Regions from separate parts of the Homo sapiens genome. Here regions 1 and 3 are each linked to region 2. The links come from fine-mapping of genetic effects on gene expression. A gene starts in region 2. Each other region holds a variant in brackets. All regions are shown on one strand. Distances are between the middles of the regions.

Region 1 (8,191 bases), 120 kb after region 2:
CATACATCATTTAAAGAGCTGTAAAAGCATTCTCAGTGTAAACCTGTTGCTAAAAAGGTAAACATTATCCTAAACTGCATTATGAGAAAGATAGCTTTTTAGTCCAAGCGAGTCAATGAGCCTAGACTATTTCACAACAATCCAACCATACCTTGAGAAGTCTATATTCAGTTTAGGGCATCATTAGAGCCTGCTACCAAGCATGGCATACTATGGTGACATTTCTGGAAATGAGGTCTTAAGATGATCAGTGGAAGGAATTAGGAATATTCGGCCTAGAGAAGTATGAAGGGCAGTACCTGACCATTAATTGGATTTCAATAAAGATTTCTAAATAAAGGATATGACAGGTATCTTCAAATATTTTAAGATATGTTACATGAAACATGACATTCTCCCTAAAGACAGAACCAGCATCAACAGATAAAAAGTTTCCAATCACCAGGAAGTTTCTAGGAGAGATGTTGGTGCCATTTCTATATGGGGTGGGAAATTGGTCCCCTCACCTTAAAAATTCTAGGAATGGTCTGGCAAAATCCAGAGGGATCTCACTGCCTCCTTACTGCCTGTGGTACTAAGGTTTCTGAAAATGTATCAGTAACCTTTGTTAAGGGAGATACTATGAAATGGTTACCTTCTTCACTGAACCTTAAGTTCCAGAGCATGAACCCAAAGAACAGTGGCATAATCAGGCTTCAATGCTCTTAAGTATTCTTAAATATTCTTTGTACTTAAAGAATTAAATATTCTTAAATATTCTTCATTTGATAAATTAAAAACTAGCACAATCACAACTCTTAAAAGATAAATCTTATTTTTCTCCCATACTTACAATATGTAGAAATGAAAAATATGGTTCCAAATACTATTAAATATTTGTACCCAAGAACTAATTCTAATCCATTTTCCACACAGCAATAAAAATCACAATAAAATGCATTTACCTCTGGATACCAACAGGGATTATATACAAAACAATCAAACTGCTCTAGAGACCAACAGATATTATATATAAAACAATCAAACTGACAGAAAAAAACAAATATTTTATTCCTAAAGAGTAGTATTAATTTTAATTTTACTTGCACTACTGAGTCATTCTTAATGATTTTTCAGAAAACAAAAACCTGCTCATTGTTTTAAAAAAAGTCAAGTAATGAGAAAGGATTTAATGAGATTTCCAGTTCTACTGCCCAGAAGTAATCTCTGTTAACTATTTCTGTGTATACTGCCAGCCATTTTCTATACAGGTGTGTATACAAGTATTTCTGGTGTTTTTTTTTTTTAATTTCTAATAGAACCACACAATAACAAATTTTGTCATTCAATACATCTTGGACTCCATGTCACCTTACATACTAACCTGCCTCATTCTTTTCAGTGGCTCACAGGGCATTTCATTGTATGCAGTACTTCAATTTTAACTAGTCCTCTTGATGATATTTAGGCTGACTCCTGTCTTTTGGTATTACAAATGTTGCTGCAGTAAACATCCTGTACAAACTTCTTGGTATATTTGTGCAAGTACAGGTACAGAATACATTTCTGAAAGTGAAACTTTGGTTGTTCATATTTTTTATTCTGATAGCTACTGCTACTGATCTCCAAAGGGACTGTGTCAAAAACTTCAAACTCAGAAGCTTCTATTTTCCCCACAGTCTAGCCAAGACTAGTCATCACTACACTCTAATCTTTGCCAATCTGACAAGTGAAAAATTATAATTTTGTTTTTAATTTGCATTTCTTCATGACTGAGGTTGAACATCTTTTCATGTACCTTTTGGCCTTCTATTTCTGTGAAATGCTTGTTACCTAGAATAAGGTCACACCCAAACATAGTACTCAAAAAGTCTTATGTTTGTACCTAAGTAAGAATATTATATTCTCAAAGTAAAGGACAATTCAAGGCAATGCTTATGAAAATTCCAACTGCCTTTTTAACAGAAATGGACAAACTGATTCTAAAATTCATATGGAAATGCAAGGGATCCAGAATAGACAAAACAATCTGAAAAAAAAAAAAAAGAAAGGCAGACACTGTTAAAGGTCTCACACTTCCAGTTTCAAAATTAACTTACTACAAAACCTACAGTAATCAAAACATTATGGTACTTACATCAGCAAAGACATATAAACCAACAGAATAGAATTCAGAGTCTAGAAATAAACCCATAATTTCTGGTCAATTGATTTTTGACAAGGGTGCCAAGACATTCAATGGAAAAAGAATAGTCTTTTTAACAAACAGTATTGGGATAACTGGATATTCTATGCAAAAGAATGAAGGTGGGCCCTTATGTCACATCATATGCAAAAATGAACTCAAAATGGATCAAGCGTGAGAGTTAAACTATAAAATTCTTATAATCTTCATCACATTGAATCAGGCAATGGTTTCCTAGATATATAAAGCACAAACAATAAAAGAAACACATATATAAATTGGACTTCATCACAATTTTAAAAGTTTCTGATGTAGAGGATACCATTCAGAAAGTGAACAGGTAATCCACAGAATGGGAGAAATATTTACAAACCATATCTCTGATAATTATCTTATAAACATTGCTGCAGTGAACACTCTTAGGTAAACATCTTTGTATACTGGTACAAGTATAGAATATATTCCTATCCAGTATCCAGAATAAACGTATGTGTGTGTGTGTGTGTGTGTGTACACACATATATATAAAGAACTCTTACAACTCAACAAAAAAGTAAATAACCAAATTACAAAATGGTCAAAAGATTTGAATAGACATTTCTCCAAAGATATACAAATAACCAATAAGCACATCACACTTCCTAGTTGCAAAACTAACTTATCGCAAAATCTACAGTAACCAAAACATTGTGGTACTTGGATCTGCAAAGACTTATAAACCAACAGATTAGAAGTCAGAGTGCAGAAATGATTTTTGCATATGCTGTGAGATAAGAGTCCACCTTCATTCTTTTGCATGAAGAATCCATGCAAAAGATCCTTGACACATCATTAGTCATTTGGGAAACGCAAATCAAAACTACAATGTGAAACCACTTCATACCCCCTAGGATGCAATGGAAAAAAAAAAAAAAAA[C/AC]AGCAAAATGTTGGAGAGGATGTGGAGAAATTAATTAAAAGAAAGCCTCATACACTGCTAGTGGGAATGAAAAAATGGTTCAACCACTATGGCAGTTACTCAATAAATTAAAGATAGAATTACCATGACCCAGCACTTCTACTCCTAAGTATACACCTGAAAAAACTGAAAACATGTTTACACAAAAACCCATACATGAATGCTCACAATAGTGTTATTTTTTGACAAAAAGTAGAAACTGATGAATAAACAAAATGTGTATATCCATACAATGGAATATTATTTCATCGCAAAAAGAAATGAAGTACTAACACGTGCTAGAAGCCAGACATAAAAGGTCACATATTGTATGATTCAATTTATATGAAATACCCAGAACAGGCAAATCCATAAAGACAAAGTAGATTAGTGGTTACCAGGGGCTAGCGAAAGGGGAGAATGGGAAGTGACTGCTAATGGGTAAGGGGTTTCTTTCTGGGGTGATAAAAATGTTCTAGAATTATATCAATATACAATTTTGTGACTATACTAAAAACCACTGAATTATACACTTTAAAATGACAAATTTTGTGGTAAGTGATTCTATCTTGAAAAAGAAAAACCCAGTAAAGGACAGGGTCTACAAAATACTTCATGATTTACCACAGCTATGAGAGAATTAGTATTCATACTGTAGGTGGCTCCGGGTCTAAAACTGTGCATACAGAACAAATAAGATTTAGTCGATGGGCATGATTTCAAGCACTGACAGTTATGGGGCCACAGCTGATATCAATTCCCAAGTGTAAACGATGTAGAAATGAGAGCTGAAACTAAGGAACCAGGCAAGCAAGCCCAAGAGAATGATTGCCAAAGCACATGTCCTTTAACTGCTGTCTGGCAAAGCAATTACAGCTGTACCCAACCTTAAGCAAATCCAGTCCTTTTAAGAACACATCTTTATCATAAATAAATGGGAGAGGGATACTGTGCTATGATGAAACAGGATGTAGGAGGAACTTAAAACAGCATACAAACAATAACAAGTGAACCTAATTTTATTACAAGTGACTAACATAACCCTTAGGCAGGGATGAAAAGAACCCAAGTAACTTCTGAAAACAGAATTTGCCTGTATACCATAAAGTTAAAGACAAATATTGTACTCTAGTTTAAAACTGTGTTTCTCACCAGGGAATGAATAGGTCACTAATTCTAAAACTACTTTTGTTTGTGTGTACTCGGATGAAACAAGTAAGTCAATATACTGTGGTTGAGAACAGTTTCTCACCTTTGGAGAAGGAAGTAACAAAGAAAGAGAAAAGGGCTGAACAGGAAAAAAGACCAAAATGGACCCTATGGTGGAAGAACAGAACTGGCAGCATCACTGGCAGTTTTTTATTTATATACATAGATGGATAGATAAGAAAATAAAAACATATGTGTTCATACATGTTACCAAACATATACACTGCTAGCTCTATCTACTAAGAGAGCCTAGAAGCAATGACACCCAGTAGCATGGAGCACACCTGGCACCCAGATCTTGGTTTCTAGATATCATTCTCTAGTAAAATGAACTCAGCTCCCTGGAAAAATGGTTGATTCCATGGCTGGTGCAAGCAGGAAAAATACAAGATACACCCAGAACATCATGTGATACCAGAAAGTAAATTAGTGCTCACAAAATGAGAGAGGGTATTGTAGAAAAGACACAGGAACAAATTTTCAAGTGCCCTCAATAACCAAAGCGAGAATGACTTGAGCAACAATTACTGGATTTTAACCCATAAGGCAAAATATCCACAAAGCCATGTAAATAAATTAATTGGATAATTAATAAGTAAAGAGGACAGTACTTCCTTAATTGTAGAATTCCAAATATAGTAAGAATGAGTGAAATAGAAAACTCGCCATTAAGCAAAGACCAAAGCAGTAATAACTGCTGCCAGTTAAGAACCATTGATAGATAGCAAAACTTGCCCATGTAAAGTATGATGGAACACAGGATATTGCAAAACTGGCCCATGATAAGTATGATGGGACACAGTATATTTGCAGTACCTCCCCACTAGAGGAAGGTATTAATTACAAAGGAATTACTAATTATTATACAACTACAAGGTTAAAATGAACATTTATTATTACAAAGGAAAAAGCAGTAACTTTACAATGAAGAAATCTGGCAGACACAGCCTTAACCAAGTGATCACATTAACTTCACCCATCATAAGACATGCTAATCACGGGTGAAGATCTGACAACCCCATATTGAGAAACATTCTAAAAAATAACTAACAGTACTCTTCAAAAGTGTCAGTAACATTTATAAAAGATGAGAGAAAAAAAAGACTGAAAAGCTTAACAGATGGGAGGAGACTAACATGATGATAACTAAATGCAAGGTAGGATCCCAAATTGGATCCTGAACTAGAAAAAGGATAGTTTATAAATGTGAATGTCCTGGTTTTAATAATTATACTATGGTTATATAAGATGTTAACATTAGGAGTAACTGGGCAAAAGATATCCAGGACCTCTTTGTACTATTTTTATACCTTTTATGTAAGTCTAAAGTTATTTCAAATTTTAAAAATCAACATAATTTTAGAAGATTTTAGAAAAACCTCTCAAAGTAAAGTAAATCTTTCTACCATAATTGAATTTGCATCCAACAGTTAACTACATCTGAATTATACTGCCACTCTGGGAAGAATTTGGCATTTTTTGATCATTAAATTAAAAAGTGGGCATAATACTCCATCTACTGATACATCTGTTTGTATAAATTATTCTAGGTTTGAAAGAAATTTGGTACAAGGATGGAGGAAAGGGGTATCATACCATCTACATATTTTTTAAACCCGTCCATTTTGTTGCCATCCTATATTAAGCATGCAACCAGTGTTTTTTAAAGCCTTCAGTGAGCAACAATTATTTTACTAGCAATACAGAAGATGGAAAGGAAAGGAAAGGAAAGGAAAGGAAAGGAAAGGGGAAAGGGGAAATGGGAAAGGGGAAAGAGGAAAAAGGAAAGGAAAGGGGGGAGGAAGGGGCAGAAGGAAAGAAGGGAGGGAGGGAGAGAAAGAAAGAAAGTTTTTTTAGATTCCTTTATACCTTCTCCTAATACCTCCCCCACCATGACCAATGACATTCATTTCATAAAGCAGCTAACTGGTGAACCTAATTTTACAGGCTATGACAAACCAAACCCTTATGAAAAGACATTATGGTGGCATTCTTAACACCCTGTGCTTCCAGACCTAAATAACTACAGGTACAATGGGGAGCCACGTAAGCCTTTAAAAGCAGTTGACAGTCAAATACAATTTAATATCATTTAAAGCTACCAACTTTGAATCCTATAGGGTTAAGTTAACCGATAATTTATTTGCTGTCACAAAATGTACTCTGTTATTATTTTCCATGTTTAAGTGGTGTTCCTCAAAAGCTAATTTTTCTAACCAACTAATTAATGAATGGAATATTTAAATAATCTTAGTTTAAGATGAAAAACAGGCAGGTTATTTCTAAATTCCACCTGCAATTAATAAAACGTACATTAGTAAGTCCAATACATAGTTTACCGAACTCAAGGACTTTTACCTACAGTAATTCCATTCTATAGATGGAGAAAATAATGTATAGTAAGAGTAAACCGGTTTTTTTCCTAAAAGGAAAGAAATAGCAGCAAAGAATTCCAGTGACTCCCTAAAAATGAGAATGCCACACAACTATGTACATGTAAGGAGACTTTAAACACTGAGGCTATGACTGGAATAGATCACTAAGGGATTGGTATTAGAGATGAAAATATCGGTGGTCCTGTCCCTAACACCACTGAAACATTCAACACCTTACAAAATAAAGGGAATATTCAACACCTTACAAAATAAAGTAAAAAGACACCCGACAAGCAAAAGAAAGCCACCTAATGAAGACCCTAAAAAGGAAATCTAAGGAAGAGTTCTGACTTCGGGGGGGGTCTAGTTAGAATAAATGGATAAAAAGGAAAAAGGCAATAGACATAGGAGGTCTAGCATTTTCCATGAGAAATAAAATTCAGTACATTTTGGTCTTGATTTCAAAGAATAGTAAAATTGCTTCCAAACAATAACAGTTCTGTGAGCAATAAATAATACATAAAATGTATTTACAGGCTAAAAAGTAAAATTTAAGGGCTTAACTTCATTGATCTACACTAAGGGTTTAACTTCATTGTCTACTGCTAGGTGAACACTAAATACTGAATCCTGAAATAGTACAAACCCAAACCAAAGTATAATCAAAATCATAATTTGATAAAACCATGAGAAAAGCATTAAGATTATAAAAGCTACTCTATGTTTCCTAGGCATCCCACTCACCTCTCAGAAAAAAAAAAAAAAAAAAAAAAAAACAAAAAAAAAAAACGTGAAGCCTTGAAATTAGCAGTTAAAAGACCAAAAGTAACTCCCCTAAATCTATTCATCAAGTAAGGTAAGGGAAATTAGGATTTGCTGAGAGGCTCTTTCATGCCAGGCACTTGTACACACCCTGCCTGGTCTAATTCTAACAAACCTGAAGTAGTCATAATCTCTTTACAAGTGAGGAAACCAAGGCTTAGAGGAGTCAACTTCCTTGCCGTTTGTTAGAACAGTGTTTCTCAATCTTGGCACCATTGACATCTGGGGCTAAAAAATTTTGAGGGTGGCGGGGGGAGGTAGAAGATGCTGTCTTACGGATTGTAGCATGCTTACCAGCATCCCTGGTCTCTACACACTGGATGCCAGTAGCATACTTTGAGTTGTGACAACCCAGCATTTCTCTAAACATTGCCAAATGTCCCCCGGGGGCAAAACAATCCTGAGATGAGAACCACTTAGAAGGAAGAAGCCAGCATTTTCATTCAATTGACAGTAGGTACGTCCCAGAGTCTGTTCAAGATGAATAAAGGACAAATTGAGGTCTCTGCCTTCAAGAGCTCACTTTGAATCCTGGTGCTTGATTTAACACCTCTCTCCATGCATAGCTATATGAGCCTCACATCATGACAGTCTGACCTATATATTCCCTTCAGCCAGCCCCTAAATCGGCTCACTCCTTCAACCACAATCAATGGCACCTTCACTGACCCAAATGACATCTTGCAG
Region 2 (8,191 bases):
TGGCATGCCCAAACATCTTATTTTCACATAATCTATCCCATTTCTAGCTCCCTTCTTTAGGTCATTTGGATACTTTATTCACCTGCTGAAATGCCTTTAAACCTAATATGAAAGATTAATTAGGGAGCTTACCTATATTTATGAAATACTTGCTTTGGTATAAAGAGCAAAGTGGACATTACTCCATGTTCTTTTTTTTTTTTTGTCAGTCTTGCTCTGTTGCCCAGGCTGGAGGGCAGTGGCATGATCTCGGCTCACTGCAACCTCCACCTCCTGGGTTTAAGCAATTCTTGTGCCTCAACCTCCAAGTAGCTGAGATCACAGGCATGTACCACCCTGCCTGGCTAATTTTTGTATTTTTAGTAGAGACAGGGTTTTGCCATGTTGGCCAGGCTGGTCTTGAACTCCTCGCCTCAAGTGATCTGCCAACCTTGGCCACCCACAGTGCTGGGATTACAGGCATGAGCCACCATACCTGGCCTGCTCCATGTTCCTAATCAGCTAAGACCTGCAAACAAAAAGCAGCCTACTCAAGATTCATAGGAAGCATTTTTACTTACAATTCCTCTCCTCGTTTGGCTTTCTTGTCTGAAACCAGATAGACAGTTCCAAAACTTCCACTGCCAAGTTTTTGTTGAAGCACGTATCTTCTTGCAATCAAGGTCTTTGGATAAGTGGAAATGGCTGTTGATCCACTCACACACTTAGCTGCCTCTTGGAATTTCAGCATTGCTCCAAACAAGAGAGAACTGGTTCATTCATTTATAGAAACTTAACATTCCAGTCTCCTAAGAAATGGTCAAATTCATCCAGTGTTGGTCAGTTCCTTAAAGATGAAAAGTTAAAAGATCAGGTCTAAAGGTTGCTAAACGATGTCTAACAAAAAGTGTTAAGTGCAGTGATATCTGCACCTTGATCAGCAGACTGACACCATATTGGTTAACAACTTGAAAAAAAATGTTAAAAGGTAGAGATACCACAAATTCCAGAAGGCAATCTTTCACAGGAAGAGCCTCCCTTTGTACATTGAAATTTGGCAGAAGTGAATTATAGCCAACTTTCCACAAATTTCTGGGATGTACATCTGTTTTACAATGAGCAATCTCTTCATTTATTTAAGATTTATACTCCCCAACTACTTATAAAAGAATCCAAATACAAGAACATTATCACCTCCTTAAATCTATACATCTGCATCAACCTTTTTGTAATGCCCTCTTCTCACCTTATATTTACTTTGGTTTACAAAGAGTGAGTTAGGATTAAACAAGGAATTAGCAGGTGCTGTTTCCTTTAGATTTATTTTTTTCTGTAGATGTTAAACCACAGTTTTTGTATTTATTAGGACAGATGCAAAGAAGGATAAGGATTGAGAATTTTTTCCCATGCTCAGCAAATTCTAGTTTCTGAAGTTCCTATTGTACACATTGTGTATAATCTCTCTGGATTAAAAACAGGAAGAGTTACAAATTCAATTCAAACCTAAAATCCCATTTAATGTCAGTGGAATATAAATGCTACAGATAAATCTGTAATTCCTCAGGGAGCTATGAGACGTGGCAGTTATGAAAGGCAGGACTGTTTAGGCCGGGCGCAGTGGCTCACGCCTGTAGTACCAGCACTTTGGGAGGCCAAGGCGGGCGGATCACGAGGTCAGGAGATCGAGACCATCCTGGCTAACACGGTGAAACCCCGTCTAATACAAAAAAATTAGCCGGGCATTGTAGCGGGCGCCTGCAGTCCCAGCTACTCGGGAGGCTGAGGCAGGAGAATAGCGTGAACCCAGGAGGCGGAGCTTGCAGTGAGATCTCGCCACTGCACTCCAGCCTGGGCGACAGAGTAAGACTCCATCTCAACAAAAACAAAAACAAAAACAAAAACAAAAAAAAGAAAGGCAGGACTGTTTCATATGAGTAGGTACAAAGTAAAATCACTTTTATTTCATCAGAATGTTAAATGTTTTGTTAGTTATCAAGAAAAGTGTGCTTTTGTTTTAAATCTATATAGAAATAACATTTTAAATTGAAAACTGCCTACACCTTGAAGTTAGGTTTTCATATTCAACAATTCCAAAGCTATGAGACAAAAACCTAGTTTTTAAGGATGGTCAATGGGCTTTACGTGGTGGTGTCCGTCAACCACAAAAACTACTAGGGCAATTAACCACAAAAATCCTCAAAACAGAACATAAGTAAATGCCCATTTACAACATTTTCCTTCTTAAAATGTATGAATCAGTTAAGTTGTACCTAATACCAGTGAGATTAGTTACCAGCTTTTTCTTTTCCCTTCCAAAGACACGTTAGTAAAATCTGCTGGAAAAACAACTACAGAGCAGGCCTCTAAATATACCTTTTGTTTTTACTTCCCCTTCACTGTCATAAAAGTGATGCCGTCTGGCCATACTAAGCTGTTCAAATAAATATATGGACTTACAGACTTTCCAGCTGAAAAGGGTCCTTCAGGTCACTCAGTAATTCTCCTTATTTTAAAGATGAGATTAAGGTTCCTTTTAGAGAAGGACAGAATTAGGGACGGACAGAATGAGAAGTTCACTTCTAGCGGCTCTTATTTTAAAGGACAGTCTAAACCCAGCAGTGCTTAAGTAGTCTGGTCCAGGCTGCAGAAGACTCTGGGACTAGGTTCCCTCCCGCCCACCCTCACAGACTCAGCCCTGCCACCCCCATCCCAGTCCACTTTTAGGTCATCCATTCCATTAGTCTCCTCTGCGCAACCATAAACCTACCCAAGAATGTGTCGCATTGTCTAGATTCTAGAACTATCTGTTCACTTGACAACACGCTCCCCCTCGAGGTTTGAGTGAACTTGGGCACTGCGAACACATCTTCTTTATTTCTGCATCCCCAATCCCTGGCATACCTCCTGGCATATACTAGGTGTTTAACAAACCTTGTTAAGGCAAGTAAGTGTCCAGCAGATCAACTGCCGCCCAAAGGAGAGAAAAAAGGTTAGTTAAGAAAGCTAGATGGGAACTTGGAGAAAGTTACTACCTTGTGCAAACTACCCGTTCTCGGTGAAACAGATCTGGCTGGGGGCAAAAGACAACGGAAGGAGTATTTATCACAAGTTGAAAACCAGTAGTTATCTTCCCAGGTAATAAGAGGAAGGCAATTTGTCACCAGTTTCTGCTACAGCACAAATCTACCTTTAAAGTAAATCTTAACCTTAAGGTAAAACGAACAATTCCTTGCTTCTTCACCTTTTTAAACATTTACATTTTGGCAAAGCAGGTTAACGTTTATTGAGGGGCACTGAGACTGGAGTACATCCGGAGGTAAGATGTCCAGGAAAGCGAGGAGATCGCAGCCATGGCGTCCTAGAGATTCGGAACCCAGCCCGGGCAGCTTGAAACCATTACCTTCCCCCTCGCAGGGGAGCCTGGCTAGCCCCAAGGAGGACAGTTCGCTTTACCTTTCCCTGTCGTGGTCGGAGCGGCGCCCGGGGCTGCCCAAGTCTTGCGGGTAATCGGGCAGGCCTCAAACTAGGGGCAACCACACCCACCGAGCGCCAGACACCGCGGGCCACGGCTGTTTGGAACCGTGGCCAGGGAGACGGCGCGGGGCATACTGGGAAGTCGGGGCGAGGCGGCACCAAGGCGGAAGTGTTCGCCGACCCAAGTAGGCGGAGAAAGCAGAGGAGGACCGGCGGGCCAAGCTTTCCTAGCCTGACAGCAGCCATTTCGGAACGTACGTCCCAGCCCTCTTTAGCTACTTAGCGCCTCTGGGCCCGAGAACACCTGCTCCTTGGCTCAGTCTGGCGCCACCGGCATCACGGAACTGTACTTCCCAGAGACGTCACACCGGGAGACTTCCGATTCCCGCTCTTGAGATTGGACTCTCACGTGCAGGAGCCAGTCCTCGCTGGGCTCTAGCGGGCTTCTGATGGAGGAGCTACTCCTCTGGGAGGACAGAGTAGGTGGGCTCTGCTGCAGGTCCGGGCGGCGGGTTGTGAGGGCCGAGGTGGCACGGTGTATGAAGGCCTGTGTTTGAAGACTTAGGTCAGACCTTTTGCCCGCCTTTCCCCTATGCAGCTCTATGCAACTGTCTGTGCAAGGTCCTGTAATTTGCGTAGGACGCCTTGACACAGTCTCTGCTTATGGACGCTTTACAAAACTATCTTGCAAAGAAATAAGTACTATACAGGATAAGGTTCTGAGATACTGACAGGGCTGGAACTAGGGTGAGATAAGTGTAAAATGTAAATGGATGCCAATAAAATTCAGTAATCAAGGTAAGTTTTAATGCAATCTCTAAAAATCAAAATTATAGCAAAAAAAATCCATGACTGACAAAATGTCACGATTTTAAGTAATAGTAACAGTACCGTGCTGTGCCATATTGAAGCCCGAGGTGTCAAAAGAAAAACCATCAATTCTGATCCTGCGAGTTAAGTTAGCCAGGTGAGGAAGCGTAGCTGGGCCAGATATGCAAAATAAGATGATGAAAAGAGCTCGTGGTTAGGGGTGTAACTGGATAGAGGGGTTCCTAGAGGCATGAAGCAGTTTTCCTTATACCAAAAACTATGCCAATTAAGAAGGGCCCACAAATCCAAAGCCTGAAAGAAGTTCCGTGACTGATTGTCAATACAAAAGAAAAACTTGATCCTTATCATAGGTCCTACACACCTTACTTTACTGAAGCCCAAATGCTTTGTGATTATGAGATGAATATGATATCTTTTTTTTAGCTTAGGACTTTTTACTTTGACCCCACAAAACAAATACTCTGTGCTGTAAGATGTTGACTATTACCACTTAAGAATCAAAGTTCACAGAACTTCTATACTGGTGTGTCAGTAATGGACTTCAACTGATTTTTCTTTAGAATTAGCAGCAGCCTCTGTCACCATCCAAAGATTACAACCCATGAAACCATTGAATTTGTGCCTTGTATCAGAAAGCAAAGGAGAATGAAAAAGCACAGCTAACATTGCTTGAGGATCTAGGTAAGAATTTATGATGTTGATATCTATGTTCTATCTAAAGAGCACTTCATAACATTTGCTATTGATTTAATGGTGCTGGAAGCAATGACTTGGTGCCCCATAACTAGCATCAATTGAAAATGTTTTCTGTTGTTTTAAACAGGCGATTAATTCTTTAGACTGTCATCATGGGTATCCGAGGACTAATGAGTTTTGTGGAAGATCATAGTAATGAGTTCTTCACTGATTTGAAGTTGCGGGACACAAAAATTGTCATTGATGGTTATGCTCTTTTCCACCGTCTTTGCTTCAGTTCAAACTTGGATCTCCGGTATGGAGGGGACTATGATTCTTTTGCAGATGTTGTACAAAAATTCTTTGAATCACTGTTTGCTTGTAATATATGCCCATATGTTGTATTAGATGGAGGATGTGACATTTCAGATAAAAAGCTTACAACTTTAAAGGATAGAGCTAGAGAGAAGATCCAGATGGCCCATTCCCTTTCTGTTGGTGGGAGTGGGTACGTATGTCCCTTACTCATCCGGGAAGTATTCATACAGGTTTTGATCAAGCTGCGGGTGTGTTTTGTCCAGTGCTTTTCAGAAGCAGATCGGGACATTATGACACTTGCTAACCATTGGAATTGCCCTGTGTTATCATCAGATAGTGACTTTTGCATTTTTGACCTGAAAACTGGGTTTTGCCCATTGAATAGCTTTCAGTGGAGAAATATGAACACTATTAAGGGCACACAAAACTATATCCCTGCCAAATGCTTTTCCCTTGATGCATTCTGCCATCACTTCAGCAATATGAATAAAGCTCTACTACCTCTCTTTGCGGTGCTATGTGGAAATGACCATGTTAATCTACCCATCATGGAGACATTCTTAAGTAAAGCGCGTCTTCCTCTTGGAGCTACCAGTTCTAAAGGGAGGAGACACCACCGAATCCTGGGACTTCTGAATTGGTTGTCTCATTTTGCCAACCCTACCGAAGCACTAGATAATGTTCTGAAATACCTCCCAAAAAAGGATCGAGAAAATGTTAAGGAACTTCTCTGCTGTTCCATGGAAGAATACCAACAGTCCCAGGTGAAGCTACAGGACTTCTTCCAGTGTGGTACTTATGTCTGTCCAGATGCCTTGAATCTTGGTTTACCAGAATGGGTATTAGTGGCTTTAGCTAAAGGCCAGCTATCTCCTTTCATCAGTGATGCTTTGGTCCTAAGACGGACCATTCTTCCCACACAGGTGGAAAACATGCAGCAACCAAATGCCCACAGAATATCTCAGCCCATCAGGCAAATCATCTATGGGCTTCTTTTAAATGCCTCACCACATCTGGACAAGACATCCTGGAATGCATTGCCTCCTCAGCCTCTAGCTTTCAGTGAAGTGGAAAGGATTAATAAAAATATCAGAACCTCAATCATTGATGCAGTAGAACTGGCCAAGGATCATTCTGACTTAAGCAGATTGACTGAGGTAAGTATTTGTAATACTAATGAAATTTTTGTAAAGTACTTTACAGGATACAAAGTGCTGTCTTCTATATTAGTTCACTTACTATAACAAACTGATGAGGTTGAGTGCTATCTTGCCCTCATGTCGTAGCTAAGAAATCTAGAACTTGAGTGAACTAGGTAATGTCTTAGCCAGAAAGTGTCAGTGCTAGGACTCAAACCTAGCTCTTTTAGCTCTAAATCTACCATTTCCACTGTACTTCAGTAGTCTGTGTTATCGTCACAGTTATTACTACTATATTGTTATTACTACCAGGTTAATACTAGCTATCAATAGAATGGGTTACGTGGCTGAAAAAAAAAGGAAAAAAATTCACAACTGCAAAAAAAGTGTATAGACACTAATCATAGGCACAACATCTCAGACTACATCGGATTTCAGATAAGGTTAGTACTGATGCTAAGGTCTAATTTTTTAACTTTTATTAATGAATACCTTTTTTAAAATAGGTTTTTGTGTCATTATGGTTATTTGCCTAGTTTGATACAGAAAACATGACTCTTAGTCTAACTTAGTGTTGCTTAAACCTGAGTAACACCCAGACCACCTTTTCAAGGAGAAAAAAATTCTCATGGATCCCAGTGTTGTCTTTTTATATTACATATATATTTAAAATTACAAATAGATATGAAACTATGCTGATAAAAGAACTAGATTTAGACATTAAATAGAGATAACTTAAAAAAAAAACAATTGCAATGCCCATTAGGGGATCTTCTTAGATCCAATGAAATATTCAGTCTCACAAAACTCACAGACCACACGTGGCACCAGTCTACTTAAGGATGTAGGACGGCAACCACAGCTTCCCAGTGGATTTAAGTCAGGTCTTCCTTTTCTGTCAGAGTTCTCCCAGCACTGTTATCAGTCTACACCAAAGCTTTATCACCATTGGTGATTTTGTCCCCCAGAGGACATCTGGCAATGCCTGGAGACATTTTTGTTGTCCCTACCTAGGGAGTAGAAGGGGTAGTGGTTGCTATCGGTATCTAGTGGGGAGAGGCCAAAGATGCTGCTAAATTTTACAACCTGTAAGTCTTACAGTGCACAGGAAAGTGTCCCATAACAAAGAATCTCTAGCCCAAAATATCAGTAGTGCCATTCCCTGGGCTATACAGCTGACCAGGAACTAGCCTCTTAGCCTCCTCTTCAGTCACATCTCAGACAGGAGGAGATGAATGTCATAGTGAATGAGTGCAAGAGCCTTCTTGGCATTGGGCAGTGAGTCCAAGAGCCTTCTTGGCATTGGCGAGTGACTGTTAAACCCCCAGGGTTTCTTTGGTTGGGGGTGAAGAAAATGTTTTGGAATTAGTGATGGCTGCACAAGTTTATAAATATACTAAACCAAGGCAAGATGGCTCATGCCTGTAAGCCCAGCACTTTGGAAGGCCAAAGTGGGAGGATCACTTGAGGCCAGTAGTTCAAGACCAGCCTGGGCAACACAACAAGACTGTCTCTACTAAAAAAAAAAAAAAAAATTTTTTGCCAGGCATGGTGGTACAGCTACTCAAGAGGCTGAGGTTGGAGGATTGCTCGAGCCCAGGAGGTCAAGCCTGTAGTGAGCTATGATTGTGCTCCCTGTTGAGCAAAACCCTGTCTCTAAAAATATATATACACTAAACCCACTGAATTGTATGCTTTAAAAGGATGACTTTTATGACATATGAATTATACCTCAGTTAGATAAAGGAGAAGAAAAGGTTTCAGTAGCTTAAAAG
Region 3 (8,191 bases), 60 kb before region 2:
TCTTAACTTTGTCCTTGAGAAATATTTAATAGTGACTTTTATTGCTAAAATAACTTTCATGAAAAATGTATTGACTTTAACTGACCCAAAATTAATATTGCCCTAAGTCTATACAGCTATCAAAAAATGTTTTCCTTCACTAAGATTATCCCTTGAAGGTTGCAATAAAAGACTTGATGTTAACTTCTAAGGTTTTGAAAATCTGTAACCCAAACTGTAACATTTGATGGATTAATAGTATCTCCTCCTTTCACCATCCCAGTTAGCCAATGACAGATTGCCTTTGAAATGTCGAGGCTTTAAAGAAATGAAGAACAACCCAAATTCAGTGTTCTTAACCCCACCTTTGATCGTTATTATCAAATTTTAAATCCTAAAAGGATTTGATTTTAAAAATTAATCCTTGTATTAACATTGGCAATCAAAGCACTTACAACCTTAAAAGACAAAAGAAGAGCATTCTCAGAAGCCTGAATTTAAAACAAAAACAAAAACAAAAAAACCCCTGCAATGTTTAAGGCTAAAAGGAACTTCAAAAATTATTCTGTCCTGCTTTTTATTTTAAAATGAAAAAGCTTCCGTTATTAATTCGCTGGACTGACAACTTAAAATGCTCTTCCTTCACACCCTACCATATCTCCATTAAATAAGCATTCTTCCAGTGGACCTCAAATATTATGCATCAAAATCTTCCAAGTTGCTTGTTTAAAATGCATATCCCTATTATCATCAACTATCATTATCATTATCATCAATAACTCTGACTCAGTAAATGCAGATTGGGTGCAGTGGCTCATGCCCGTAATCCCAGCACTTTCGGAGGCCAAGGCAGGCAGATCACTTGAGGTCAGGAGTTCGAGACCAGCCTGGCCAACATGATGAAACCCCGTCTCTACTAAAAACACAAAAATTAGCCAGGCGTGGTGGCACATGCCTGTAATCCCAGCTACTCGGGAGGCTGAAGTAGGAGGATCACTTGAACCTAGGAGGCAGAGGTTACAGTGAGCCAAGATCCCATCACTGCCCTCAAGACTGGGCAATAGAGCAAGACTCCATCGCAAAATAAAACAAAATAAAATAATGAAAAAGCTTCCCTTATTAATTCACTGGATTGACATTTTAAATGCTGTTCTTCATAGCCTACCATATCTCCATTAAATAAGCATCCTTCCAGTGGACCTCAAATTTTATACATCAGAATCTTCCAAGTTGCTTGTTTAAAATGCATATCCCTAGACATTAGCAACAATAACTCCAACTCAGTAAATCCACATAGACCCAAGGAATCTGTATTTTCAACAAGCATCCTTCGTGACTCTAGGACAGGTGGTCCATGGAACAAACTTTGAGGCATGATGCTAGGCAATAATATAAACAGGCCATGTACTTAATATTTAGCCTGTCAGTGGAAACATTTTGTCTAAAATTTGAACAACTCCAAAGGCAAAAGATGTACTTGAGAAAGGCAGGGCTGAATAAGAGTCATTTTACAATAACATGTTTTTGAAACTCTGTTTCATTACTTAGGAGAATACCAATAAATGGAGGTAAAGGCAGTGAGGGAGGAGATCCTTTGTCATTATATTGTACAACCCAAGGACATTTTCCTAGAATTTTGGAAGTGCACTTTAAGAGACTGCATAAAACGTGGGGGAAATGTCAAGCCACATTATGCTCTTAAAAGCAAAACAAGAAAAAAACCAGCTTCTAAATAGGTACTGAAGAATGCCATGCAGTATTATGATTTTCATTTCTAATAATATAAATGAACATCTTGAGTTTAGTTAGTATTTTTTTCAAATTCTTTTAGAGATAGTGTTCTTTTTGCTGAGGTAAATGTAGATGAATAAGAAATGGCAGAACTTATTCTTAGGTGATATGAAATAATGTGAAATAATGCTTTTATCTATAAAGCACAGGGTTTTTTAAAAAAAAACCATTTGAAATAAATTAGTGTGATTCTATTTTTAAACACTTGTATTTATATAAATTCATATGACAGCTAAAGCCTTACCCCAAATGTCATAAACTCTACTGGGTTTGCAGATTGCTTTCTATTAGTGCATTAGTGCATTTCTTTTCAATGAAACTAGTCTTGCTTTTCAATTGTTAGATTTAACAATTTTAGGTAAAAATCAGTGGTCTTATTTTTTATTGTTTTTCATTAAAAGGTCAAAATATTTCATAGTTTAAGAAAGAAAGTAAATGGAACAAACCAAATGACTTTAATTTTGATACTTATAAAAATCACAAATGGATCAGTTTAGGTATATAAAAACATTAGACACTCGTATTATTTACAGCCTTCCCCAACTGGACAAAATCTAGACCCATAGAATTGACACAGGATAAATTCAGGGAGGCCTACCTACTCCTAGATGGAGCTGCCCAGGAAAATCAGAGGGCCCCGATGGGACCCACCACTCTGAAAACAATGCTTAGTTCCTTCAATCAGCAGCAATCCCAGCAATGCAAACCACTGAAGACAGTCCTGAGGTGTGGACAGCCCCAATGTGTGGATGCCTGATTTGAGTTCACAGTAGGAAGGATGATCACCAATCAATGTCACAATGGTCAAATTCCAGGGGTGTTCCTCATCTATAAATAACCAATTCTGGGGGGTGGTGGTCCCAAACAGGCTTCAGGACTATAAGCAGTTGTTCTGAAGCACAGAAAAGGATTTGTTTCTAATACTAGACACAACACACCCAATATGAAGTTCTACAAGGACCCTCTGAGAACTAGTAAGCCTGGTGGCTGCACGTCATTGCCAAATTTACTTCTAATAGTCTATTGACACGCACTAGAGATTCAAGATTGCAAAACTCAACCCGCTTACTTGGTTTGTTTAAATACTTTTGCATAAAAAAGAAACATATGAGGAAATTTCAAATGTTCCGTTTTATAGTACAATCAGTTCGGAAAGTACTTGCCTCAAAGTTACTAGCAGGCCTATTAGTGGTTAAGAATTTGCGGCCGGGCACGGTGGCTCACGCCTGTCATCCCAGCACTTTGGGAGGCTGACGTGGGCGGATCACAAGGTCAGGAGATGGAGAACATCCTGGCCAACATGGAGAAACCCCATCTTTACTAAAAATACAAAAATTAGCTGGGCGTGGTGGCACGCGCCAGTAGTCACAGCTACCCGGGAGGCTGAGGCAGGAGAATTGCTTGAACCTGGGAGGCAGAGGTTGCAGTGAGCTGAGATTGTGCCATTCATTGCACTCCAGCCTGGCAATGAGGTGAGACTCTGTCTCAAAAAAAAAAAAAAAAAAAAAAAGAATTTGCATATTTCTTCCTTTTGGCATGAATCCTCATACTAAAGGCTGCACGACAAAATCTCAGAGGTAAAAACTAG[C/T]TTTACTTCTAGAAAACAGCCGGAGGGAGGAAAGGGGGGTGAGTAACAGTGAAATAACGAACAATTATAATAACTTTCATTATTGAAAATCTACTAGGAGAAAAGCTCTGATAGTCACTTTTTCAACATTCATTATTTCAAATCCCTATAAAAACAAAATATATGTTATACTCTCTTAAGAAAAACGGGTCAGAGAAATGAAATAATTTGCTGAAGGAAATGGACAAAGATTTGAATAGGAGATGCCAAAGTCTACACACTTCCCACTATTTAAAACCTTATCTAGTCTTCCATTGAGAGAAAATAATCATATCATCACATTAAAATTTGCATTTGTGTACAAATAGTTTATGTGAATATGTATATGTATTATAGAAATAGAGATGGATAAAGACACTGAAAATAATTGAGAATAAGCCAAGAAAAGGAGCATCTATCCCAATACCCCTGGTCCTAGTTCTGCCCTGGATTTAACAGTCAGAAAATCACTCCACTTTCTGGGGTCCTGTTTCTTCATCTGTAAAATGGAATTAATAAGCAAGAATTTACTTCTCCTCAAAAAAGGATAGGGGCATGTTAAAAAGACACAGGAGCCAATCTGAAGGAACCCCATTAGCCAAAGTTGGAACAATTTGAGCAACAAAATAAACAGTGACGGTACTGGGTGTAACCCATATAATATTTTAAAATCCATGAGTTCATACTAATATAAATAAATAACTGAAAAAATACATGGATGGAGGAGAAGCAGCAGCTCTTCCTTACAGTGGAATACCAATTAGTAAATACAGAAAGAATGAGAGAAATATATAATCACAATTAGGTAAAGAATAGAGAGTAAGAATCGCCACAGGCAACTTCACTGAAAGAGACTAAAATTAATGAGTGAAGATTTGAAAAGAAACAGGCTATTATTAATAGAAAACTCTCAAACTATCTTACCCAGGATATTTATCAATTTCAAAGGGAAAAAATAGTAACTTTACAGTGAAAAACCCCACAAGACAGAACCTTAACCAAGTGATCAAAGTTAACATCATCAGTAATAAGATACAGCTGGTACCCCTTAATATGATGTACTGAGAAGAATACAATACTACTATTGTAGTAGTCTTGCCAAGAATATGTAACCTCAATCTAATCGTGATAAAACATTAGACAAACCCAAACTGAGAGACATTCTACAAAATAGCTTGCCAGTTACCCATCAAAAGTGTCAAATTCATAAAAAACAAGGCAGGAAAGGGAAATTGTCACAGATTAGAGGAGACTAAAGAAATAGAACTAAATGCAATGTAGAATCCTGGATTGGATCCTAGAATAGACCAAAGGCATAAAGGGGAAAACTAGTAAAATATTAATTTTCCTAGTTTTGATAATTATACTATGATTATATAAGTTGTTAAAATTAGGGAATGTATTTAACTGCAAACATATTACAATTAAAGGTGAAGTACTGGGTTCCTAAATCACATCCCATGCTTTTCTACCTCTGAGCCTTTTATCACATCATTCCATTTAGCTGAAATGTCCTTGCTCTATTCTTCTTGGCCTAATCTTTCCCGTACTGCGAACTCAAATAGAATGCTAGCCCCTTCATGGTTCCCATGGTCAGAAGTCATTTCTCTCTCCTATTACCCCCACAGCACTTTAACCATACCCTTCCCATAACACATACCACACTCCCCCTTGTATTTTAGCAACTGATATAAATGACTCATTAATCCTACCTGAAAATTCATTAAATATTATCATATTATCTCTGTTATGCCACACAATGACTATAATTGTATCTGACACAGATCTGGGGCTCAGTAATGGCTTTTGGAAAGTCCCTTGATTACAATTGCCATTGTGAACTTCAAGTTCATAAGGCATCAATAAATAATCCAGATTGCCAACGTATTCATACACAATGAGAGCTAAAACTGCCAAGGCAATAGGGAACTCATCTCAGGTTAGCCAGCATATTTTTTCCTATTAGAGGAGACATATATGGAAAGCTAAATTAGGATCAGAAGGTTGCCTGGGAAGCAAGGAGAACAAGTTGTGCAATTTTCGTGAATAAGAGCAACAGGCTAAATGGCTTGATCATAAAACTACACTCACTACAGGGCCAGACTCTCTTGTTCTCAGCTCTGGGCCTCATCTTTGCTTAGTGCTCCACCAATAATGACAAATTTTTCCTTTATGACTATTTGTCTATTTCCACACTAACTATTCTCTCCTTTTGAATTTTTAAAATTATTTATTTTGCCATTCTCAGCCCTGGCTGCATTTTAGAATCACCTGGAGAACTCTCAAAACCCTGATGCCTGGGCCATTTCCGAGGATCAATTAAATCAGACTTTCCAGAGGTGGGCCTCAGGCCTCAGGATTTTTGATAGCTCTTCAGGTGATTCTAAGATGCAGCCAATGTTGAGAACTAGTACTACATTGATAAAATTTTTATTTACCTATGTTAATGTCACCAAGCAGAAAATAGAGAAGTCCAACATTTCCTGCCTTTTTCCCTATCATATGTTCTCTCCACCACAACCACTACCACCACCCTCTCCTGAAGATATGTGATCTCACCCATTCTCTAGTGTGTCTACTAATTTAATGCCTAGGTTTCTGGAGATGCCTTGTCTTCACCCAAATGGAAGACTTTCAGGCAGTATCTCACAGGTCTCCAGTGCAGCACATTGTTAGGTATATCAGCACAGTAAGGTAGGACAAAATACTTTTAACATATACAACAGGTAGAAGGATTCAATATTTTATCATTACCATTAGTGTTTGACAGAAATCAGGTGGGAGGCAGCTGGAACCAAGAGGTAAAGAATACATCAAAAAATATCTTGAGTGCTAACTTCTTTGTGGTTCACTATGTGGGTCCACGATGTGATAGAAAAATGAATCAGAAAAAGATCAATCCCACATGCTGAGAATCTGACATGGCTCATATGATGTAAACTGTGCTTTGTACCATGAGAGATAAAGATTCTGTGAGAGTTGAGGGGATTGGGATTGGGGTGGGGAGTGATTTCTAGCCACGAGTTTATGAGAGGCTTTGTTTATGGGAAAGGAACCTTGTTTATTGGAAACTTTGATTATGAGAGAGGAGGTGGCATTTAAGCTGGGCCTGGGAGTCAGGGTAAGATTTGAAGATGTGGGACTAGGAGGAAGGGCATTCTCAGAGGATATGGCCTAAGCAAAGATGAAAAGGTGTGAAACTGTGGAGGATGGGCAGTAGTTCCATTTCCTTCCTACATGGAGGAAAATAGAAGACACCAATATTTGAAATATTCTGCCATTCTGGTAGTTTTGGAACTATTCCCCATCAAAGATTTGGTTAAATCTTGACCAGAAATTATGAGAGTTCAGTTGTCTGCTGTTTTACACTCATAATCTGATGTATGTGTCCAAAGGGTTAGGTAGTAGATGCAGAAGCCTCACTAATGCATTTATATATTTCAGTCTTGAAAGGCCCCAAATTAAATTACAGAAGAGGGAACCTGGAGATAAAGAGATAAGCCATTTCAATGGTAGTGATAGCATTTTTCTATGAGGTGCAATTTTGGTCACCTGCCATTTCCTATACTATTATTTTACCTTAATAAAAAGGATAACACCAGCCCTGTGCCAGTTAAGAGTAAATTTGGGTCTGATGATGAGAAATATCTCTGTTAACAAGAACGGAGCAATCTGTGCAAGTCACTCCTCAGGAGTCCAGGGAAGTGGCAACCTGCCAGCTCAGTGGCACACAGAGCCCAGGCGGCCCCACAGCTGTCTCTCAGCACTGCCAGCAGCCATCACCATGGCAACAGCCCCTCCCGGGAGAGCAGCTCAGCCCACTGAAACCACCCATCATTTAAAAATCAACACAGATGATTCCGGATGAGATCCTCTGCAACAACAACAAAAATCTTATAGAACTGTCCCTTCTAAGAATGTAATTCAGACAATATAGACTGTGAATTAGATGGGTGATTCTCGAAATTCAGTATGCTTTGGGCTCATTTGGCAGGCTTGTCAAAACACAGATTGCCAGAACCCCACCCCCAGAATTTCTGATTCAATGCAGCTGGCTGGGGTAGAGGCAAAGAATTTGTATTTCTAGCAAGTTCCCAAGTGATGCTGATGATACTGGTCTGGGGTCACACTTTGAGAACCACTGGGTTTCATACTAGCATTGTATCACTGTTGATTTCCTGATTTTGATTACTGTACTATGGTTACATAAAAGAATGTCCTTGGTCTTAGAAAATACTCACAGCTGTATTATATTTAGGACAAAGGAGCATCATGTCTGAAACTTATTCTCAAATGGTTCATTAAAAAATGTAGGTAGAAAGATAAAGCAAATGTGGAAAAATAACAATTTGGGAATCTGGATAAAGGGCATATGGAAGTTCATTGTGTTACTCTTGTAACATTTCTGGTAGTTTAAAATTACATTAAAATTATAAATTTTTTCAATTAATACAGGGAAAGAAAGTTATAGCAACATATACTATGTATGTCTAATACGGTAGCGAGGAGCCACATATGGTTATTTAAATTTAAACTAACTAAATTTAAATAAAATTTAACATCCAGGCCCTCAACTGCACTATCCGCACAGCAAGTGCTAAAGAGCCATGTATATGACTAGCGACTACTATATTAGACAGCACAACTATAGCCCATTTCCATCAGCACAGAAAGTTCTGTGAAATAGTGCTGACTACAGTTTAAAATATTCTAAGACATGGAAAGAGTCTTTGAAAAAGTCAATGTCCTAAAAGCAGCAATAGAGGTAGCAGTAATAGTTATAAGCAGTATGAGTCAGTTGTTTCTAAAATAACA

Which allele goes with the higher level. Alleles are on the strand shown, and positions count from the first base shown. SD is a standard deviation of normalised expression in the study named. Not every link is listed here.
For the expression in Th2 cells of the gene that starts at base 3,562 in region 2, allele C in region 1 goes with a lower level than allele AC (large effect, 1.2 SD a copy in Schmiedel 2018).

What was found. PIP is the estimated chance that this variant, and not a neighbour inherited with it, causes the effect.
Region 1: its variant is fine-mapped to the expression of NEK11 in Th2 cells (Schmiedel 2018, PIP 0.95).
Region 3: its variant is fine-mapped to the expression of NEK11 in whole blood (INTERVAL, PIP above 0.99).

What each region holds. Positions count from the first base shown.
Region 1 is chr3:130,901,565-130,909,755 of GRCh38, reverse strand. The region is part of intron 2 of ATP2C1 (ATPase secretory pathway Ca2+ transporting 1); the gene reads right to left. Among named protein-coding and RNA genes, the nearest start is that of ATP2C1, 12 kb to the right of the region's middle. The variant C/AC (reference allele first, on the strand shown) is at 3,081.
Region 2 is chr3:131,022,248-131,030,438 of GRCh38, reverse strand. It overlaps NEK11 (NIMA related kinase 11), which reads right to left and starts at 3,562. Exons shown (of 18, transcript NM_024800.5): 1 at 3,433-3,562; 2 at 2,437-2,509; 3 at 561-826. The coding sequence starts at 730. ASTE1 (asteroid structure-specific endonuclease 1) reads left to right here and starts at 3,614. Exons shown (of 6, transcript NM_014065.4): 1 at 3,614-3,932; 2 at 4,845-4,965; 3 at 5,108-6,434. The coding sequence starts at 5,133. RefSeq lists enhancers at 3,253-3,442, 3,523-3,582, 3,723-3,962.
Region 3 is chr3:131,082,325-131,090,515 of GRCh38, reverse strand. The region is part of intron 4 of NEK11 (NIMA related kinase 11); the gene reads right to left. Among named protein-coding and RNA genes, the nearest start is that of NEK11, 60 kb to the right of the region's middle. The variant C/T (reference allele first, on the strand shown) is at 3,359.